Linked DNA regions of Homo sapiens. The protein of the gene in region 2 interacts with the protein of the main gene of each other region in a pairwise test. Each region holds a gene or a part of one and is shown on either strand. Other genes may lie near its edges.

Region 1 (3,831 bases), on a different chromosome or scaffold from region 2:
GCATTAGAGTGTCTGTATTTTGTTGTCTTCATTTATAGAGTGCTGAGATTAGTTTTGACAGGCAGGTAAGTTATATGTAAATTAGCGTGATCTTTTCGAGGCAGTTTTATAATTTTAAGCTTTTAGAGCAGATGGAGAGTAGGTTTTCTGTAGTAAGTTAGCCCAGTGCCCAATTTGTGACCATTTTGGGGTTCTTACTGATTTTCTCATACATTTAGTGAGGTTTCTCTACTCTGGCTGGTGGGAACCAGCCCCATGTGTTGTGATACTTATTCAGGTATTTAAGTGAAAGAGGACATATCAGAGTATAACTAGACAGAGAATATAAATAGAAAAGAGGTTTCCAGAGGACTGAGGTCCTGGGGCAACCTGATGTTTAGAGGTGAGGAACATGAGGCACAATCAGTAAAGGAGATGGAGAAAGAATTGCCAGAAAGGTCAAAGTAAAAAAGGAAAAGTGAGAAGTCCTGGAAGGGAAACACACTGTTTTGTGGGGAAGGAATGGAATGTGCAATCATGTCAAATGCTATTGATAAAAGAAGTAAAAGGAGAAAAGTAATCACTGACAATTGGAATTGGAAACCTGGAGGCCATAGGTGAACCAGCTGAGAATAGTTTCAGAGGAGTTGGTGGCAAAATCCTAAATAGAGCAGCCCAGGAGAATGGGAGAGGAAGAAGTAAAGACAGTGACTGCAGAAAACTCTTGCCAGAAGCTTTGCTTTAAAAAGAAGAAGAATGGACAACAGGCTTCCTGAATGCCAAGGTATTTAGCAAGCTCTTTGCATTAAGAACTAGAATGCTCTGCAAGCCTGTGTGAGCACCAAGAGTTGTTCAGCTTATTGTTCAGAAACTTCTTTGTGAACTTTTATCCTCTGTGTGCAGCCTAGTTTCCAGATAAACATTGAGGAGTCCTCCTAGGCAGATTTCTGAGGCTTTCTTTCTGCCTGGCTCCCTCTCTGGTCCTCTGCCCCGAAATTTCTGGCTATCTTCACCTTCCTCCTCCAATTGTTGTCTCCTCCAGTTGGTGAGTCAGCCCTGCTTGGGACCCTTCTCCTTGTGCTGCGGTCCAGGAAGGACTCTGGGCTGAGATCATAGGGTTCATCTACTTTGTTTCCCACCTCTTAGGAATTACAGTCTTGCACTGTCAGTTGTAAAGTCTGAAAACAGCTATTTCTTTTATTTTTATCCAGTTTTCTAGTTTACAGTGAAAGGCAAGTCAGTACAGGTCCATCAGGGCTGGGGACCACAGGGGCAGTTTCACACGGAGTTCCGAGTCTGGCATGCCCGGCCTTTGTGATATGTAAAAGTCTGCATCTGAAACGGCCCTTCTTGGTTGTCGTGTTCACAGTCCCAATTGTAGGGCTGTGTCATGGATACGATTAATGAGATCCTGCCATTTTCAGAGTTGCTTCCTGAGGTCCAGGAGGGACTTCTTGTGTTTACATTTCTTATTACCCTGACTTTATTAATAGTGCACTTGTTTTGCTGCCTTCATACCCACTGCCTCATGTAAGGGCTTTTGATTTCGCCTTTTAAAGGCCAGGGTGAGAGTGGCAGCTTACATGTGTACGGGCCATTTGTCTCTTTTTAAATTCCAGACAGTACACATTCCGTGCTTTTCCTTTGTGCACCACTCTGGCTACTAGACTAATCAGGACCTTGTCTACCAATTATCCACAAAATGAAATTTCGGAAAGTCTGCCTCTTTTAGAGACAACTTTCTTAAAGTGTTCCATGATACATCAATACCATCTAGCTACAAAAGTAAATACGCACAAAATATTTTATCTCAGTGGACATTTTAACTTGTTAAATAAAGCACTTTCTAGTTAGTGGTTTGCTCTGATTGGCATTTCTAAAAACAACTTTATGAGTTATAACTTACAGACCATAAATTCACCCATGTTAAGTGTACAAATTAAATGATTTTTACTAAGTGTACAGAGATATGCAACCATCACCATAATGTAAATTTAAAACATTTTTATTCCCCCAGTTAGATCCCTCATGCCCAAAGGCCCGCTCCCACCCCAGGCTCAGGCAACCAACACATCACTGTGTCTCCATGGATTTGGCTCCCTTTCTGGGCATTTGACACAAATGGAATCACATAACATGTGGCCTTACATGTCTGGCTTCTTTATATTTTTGAGATTTATCCATGCTGTAGCATATTCATTCTCTTTTGTTGCTAAAATAGTATATATTTTTTTACCGTATAGCTGTATCCTATTTGTTTACAGTTGATGAGCACTTGTGTCATTTCCACATTTTGGCTATTAATAATACTGCTATGAATGTTCTCATGCAAGTCTTTGTATAGATGGGCATTTATTTTTAAAGCACTTTTCTAAGAAAGGAAATAATTTATACTTTGGAAATTTCATATCAAGAATTAATTGTATACAGTTAGTTGGTCTGGATAATTGAAATCTTCTCACTCTATTCTTTAACTTATAAACAGAGTCCCTGCTCCACAACTCTCCCTAAACTAACTTCTTGCAGAGTTCAATTTTAATGGTACAACTGGCTTGGTTGTCTTACTAGATTCTAAGTTTCTAATCAGTTGGCCCCACAATTCTTCTTTTCCTAAATCCCCAAGGCTAGTGCTTTTTGACTGTTTCCTGCACCTAGATGCAGAATGTTTAAAACTGAGCCCATCATGTTCCTCCCTGAACCTATTCCTAATCCATTATTTCTAATCTCACCATTGAGCCACCCTTTCTAACCACTTCCTCCAGCCAAAAACCTGGAAGCCACCCCAAATTCTTCTATATCCAGTTGGTCACAAGGCTCACCCATATTTGATTATGTCATCTCTTATTCAATAGCATTTAAGGACTTATTTGAAATAAAGTTAAATTCTTTATCTTATCCTAGGAAAACTCGGTGATCTGCTTCTCATTTCCCTCTCTCCAGCTTCATCTTTCAACACTTCACCTGGCCCTCCCTCCTACTGCCCCTTGCCCCACATCCCACGCTCCAGCAGCTAAAGCTTTTTCATTTGATCAGTATTTATTGAGACCTGTGATGTGCCAGGCATCATACCAAGCCCTGGACTTACAGGAGCACGTGCTTCCTAGCTCCATAGAACATACTCTTTAGTGGGGAAGACAAAGCAGTTATTTTAATAAAGGTGAGATGTATTCTGTTGGGGGAAATGGTATGGGTTGTCACAGAAACTTGCAGCACAAGGAGTGAAACTCCTCTGGGGAAAGGGAAGCTGAGGCTTGGAGGATGGGTGGGATCCCGTCAGGTGAAAGGGAGGCAAGAAGAGCTCTCTGTCCTCCTGGGTTTCTGGTAATATCACCTACAATGCTTTTTTCCCCAAGGCTATCTACAAAATGGTAGGCACTGTGATCATGATGAAAATGAATGAGGATGGCCTGACGCCTGAGCAGCGAGTAGACAAGATTTTCAGCAAGATGGATAAGAACAAAGATGACCAGATTACACTGGATGAATTCAAAGAAGCTGCAAAGAGCGACCCTTCCATTGTATTACTTCTGCAGTGCGACATCCAGAAATGAGCTGATGTCAATGCTATGGACTGCACAAAAGTCTCAATGTTCCATTCAGTCTGCAGCTATTCACACACACACACACACACACACACACACACACACACACACACACAAATATTGCTTGGACTACCTATAAATGGACTTGCTTCTTGTGTTTGAAACACTCGTGTGCATGAGAATGTCATTTGCTAATGAATTTTAAAAGCATATATAAAACAAAACAAACAACCTGCCACAATGTGATATGTGTAATATCATTTCATAAAAATCCCTCTTCCTCCAAAGCCTGGGCAGAAATGTGCTGCAA
Region 2 (2,693 bases):
CTGGTATTCCAGGGGCACCTCTTGGGCCAGCCTCTCCATTGTGTCCGGGCATTCCCTTTGCTCCTGCTGGGCCCACAGGGCCTGGGAGACCAGGAGGTCCTCCAACTCCAGGATCACCTTTTGGACCTGGTAACCCTGGGTTACCCTTAGGACCATCGAGACCTGGTTTTCCTGGGTACCCTGGTTTTCCATCTGACCCAGGGGAACCCCTTTCACCCTTAGCCCCAGGGTATCCTGCAGGCCCAGCTGGCCCTGTCTCACCTTTAGGGCCTGGGAGACCATGGCTACCCGGGATGCCTTTTGGTCCTTGGGGTCCCATATTCCCAGGGGGTCCAGTCAGACCTGGCTTCCCAGGAAGACCTGCTGGCCCTTGTTCCCCTTTGGCACCTGGACCCCCAGGAAGGCCAGCAGGTCCTCTTTCTCCCTTCAGGCCTGGCAAGCCTGGTTTCCCAAAGCCAGGAGGCCCTGGGGGCCCAGCTATTCCTGGAGCCCCAGGGAGACCTTTTGTTCCTGGAATCCCTGGCTGGCCTGGGGCTCCAGCAGCTCCTGGCTTTCCAATGCCTTCTGGCCCTCGTTCCCCAGGAGGGCCTTGGGGACCTGGTGGGCCAATTGGTCCCATTTCTCCCGGAAAACCTCTATCACCTTTGATGCCTGGCTGTCCTGGAACCCCATTTTCACCTCTTTTTCCCACTCCAGGAGGGCCAGATGGTCCTGTGGGACCCTGAGGGCCTGGAAGACCCCTCTCACCTGGACGACCAGGAGCACCATATCCCATTTCCCCTTTCTGTCCATTCATACCAGGGACTCCTGGTGCACCCTTTTCTCCAGGAAAGCCCCTGGGTCCTGGGGCTCCTGTGGGTCCCTGTTGTCCAGGTTTTCCTGGCACAGAAATTCCAGCCGGTCCAGGGATTCCAGGTGGTCCTGGTGGGCCCCGGGGTCCTGGTAGGCCAGCTGGTCCAACATCTCCTTTTGGTCCATATGGTCCTCTCTCTCCTGGTTTTCCTGGGAGTCCTGGCACACCTGGTTTCCCTACAGCTGATGGTCCCGGTGGTCCTGGCAACCCTGGCTCTCCTTGGAGTCCAGGACTTCCGTAGCCTGGTTTTCCTGGTGGTCCAGAAGGACCTGGGTGCCCTCGAGGTCCAGCAGGGCCTGGTGGACCAGGAGTACCTTGCTCTCCTCTTACTGCTATACCTAAAAGACACACCCAACACACCCACCCATAGAAGGGGATGGTTAGTGACATTAAAGAGAATCATTGCCTTTCAAACTATGAATTGGGACACGATATTTCAGCATCATTTATTCCATGTAGACAGAACAGTCTGAAATGGTTTTAGATTATATGTTTTATACTGTTTTAAAAAATTCTGCTGGAGAAGATGGTTTCACAAAACCATGGCTACCATAATACTTTTATCCCATGACAGTGATTCATGAAAATGAGCTAGGATTGAAGAATTCCTCTAGAATAAGTGCAGTGGAGGTAAATTTAGTACATTTATTTTGGGAAAATCATGTACAGAAAAGGCAGAAAAAGACAGTGCAGAATAAGTGAGAAAATGTTTAAGAACTATAAAAATTTTCCCTCCCAAAGCTACCCTGTCAGACATAAAAGAGAAACAGAATTAATTCTGATTTACATCTGCCATGCCTCTGCTGAACACAGGTTAGATTTTGGTTGATTTACTTTTACCTCAGAATATACTCTGAGCTCTTATACTCTCCATTATTGACTTAAAATTGAAACAAAGAACTAGAGAATTAGACATAATAGGTGAGGTACATAAAATAGTATTAAAGTTCTTACCTAAATACAAATATATAGTGTTTGATTTCATAGAGCTGTGAGTTCACTTGACCTGATAAACTAAACTTAAACTAAAAATCATAGTGCCTGTGATGTGAAAAATGCGGCTGGGCCACAAGTATGGGGAAAGCACAGGGTACAGATGTTTCTGAGATTTGGAAAACATTTGGTGTATATAAATGCAGAGCGAATCATTAAAATAGATATGCCGAAATAGGAAAATAATTGTTTCAGATTTAGATTTTTTTTTACTAATTAGAGTTATATTTCAATTTGAAAACATTGATTAATATAAATACATAGAGCTTTCCCCATGGATTTTCAGAAAATGACATCAGGAAAAAGACTGTGAGAAAAATTTATGTAAAAGATTTCCGTATATTAAATATTTCATTGATTGTAGTGTACATACATGATTATATTATGTATAAGTGGATATTGATATATTGCAAATAGAGGAATAAATAAGGAATTTTTTAATGGGTTGGAGGAATAAAATAGTGGATTTTTTAAAATGCCAACTATGTTAGATTGAGCTTTGCTTTAGAATCTGATTATAAGGGTCATGTTCACACTAAAAATAATTGTCTTAGTCTGATTGGAAATCTGTTTTACTATTAAAAAGGAGAAACAAGTCAATGGAAATGAGTGCATTGGGCGTCATCCGAGACTGGAACTCCAGTGACAGGGCGAACTTTGTCACTTGGAATGTTGTCCTAATGGGTCTCAACTTCTCAGTGCGAGAAAGAATTTGGCTTCTATTGAATGCTTGGGGGACAGCCCCTGTTTGTAGGTTGTCATCTGAAAAAATTTTCTTCATTCAAGATTAGGGTGGCACAATCCTCAAGGTAAAACGACTACTTCCTTCTATTAAGTTTTTTAAATG

Evidence for each region.
Region 1: the proteins of COL10A1 (region 2) and VSNL1 interact in a two-hybrid assay, tested with the Homo sapiens proteins (one large-scale study listed by BioGRID and IntAct).

What each region holds. Positions count from the first base shown.
Region 1 is NC_000002.12:17,651,865-17,655,695, forward strand, and holds part of VSNL1 (visinin-like protein 1), read left to right. Parts: intron 1-3,332; coding exon 3,333-3,530; 3' UTR 3,531-3,831.
Region 2 is NC_000006.12:116,120,771-116,123,463, forward strand, and holds part of COL10A1 (collagen alpha-1(X) chain precursor), read right to left. Parts: intron 1,192-2,693; coding exon 1-1,191.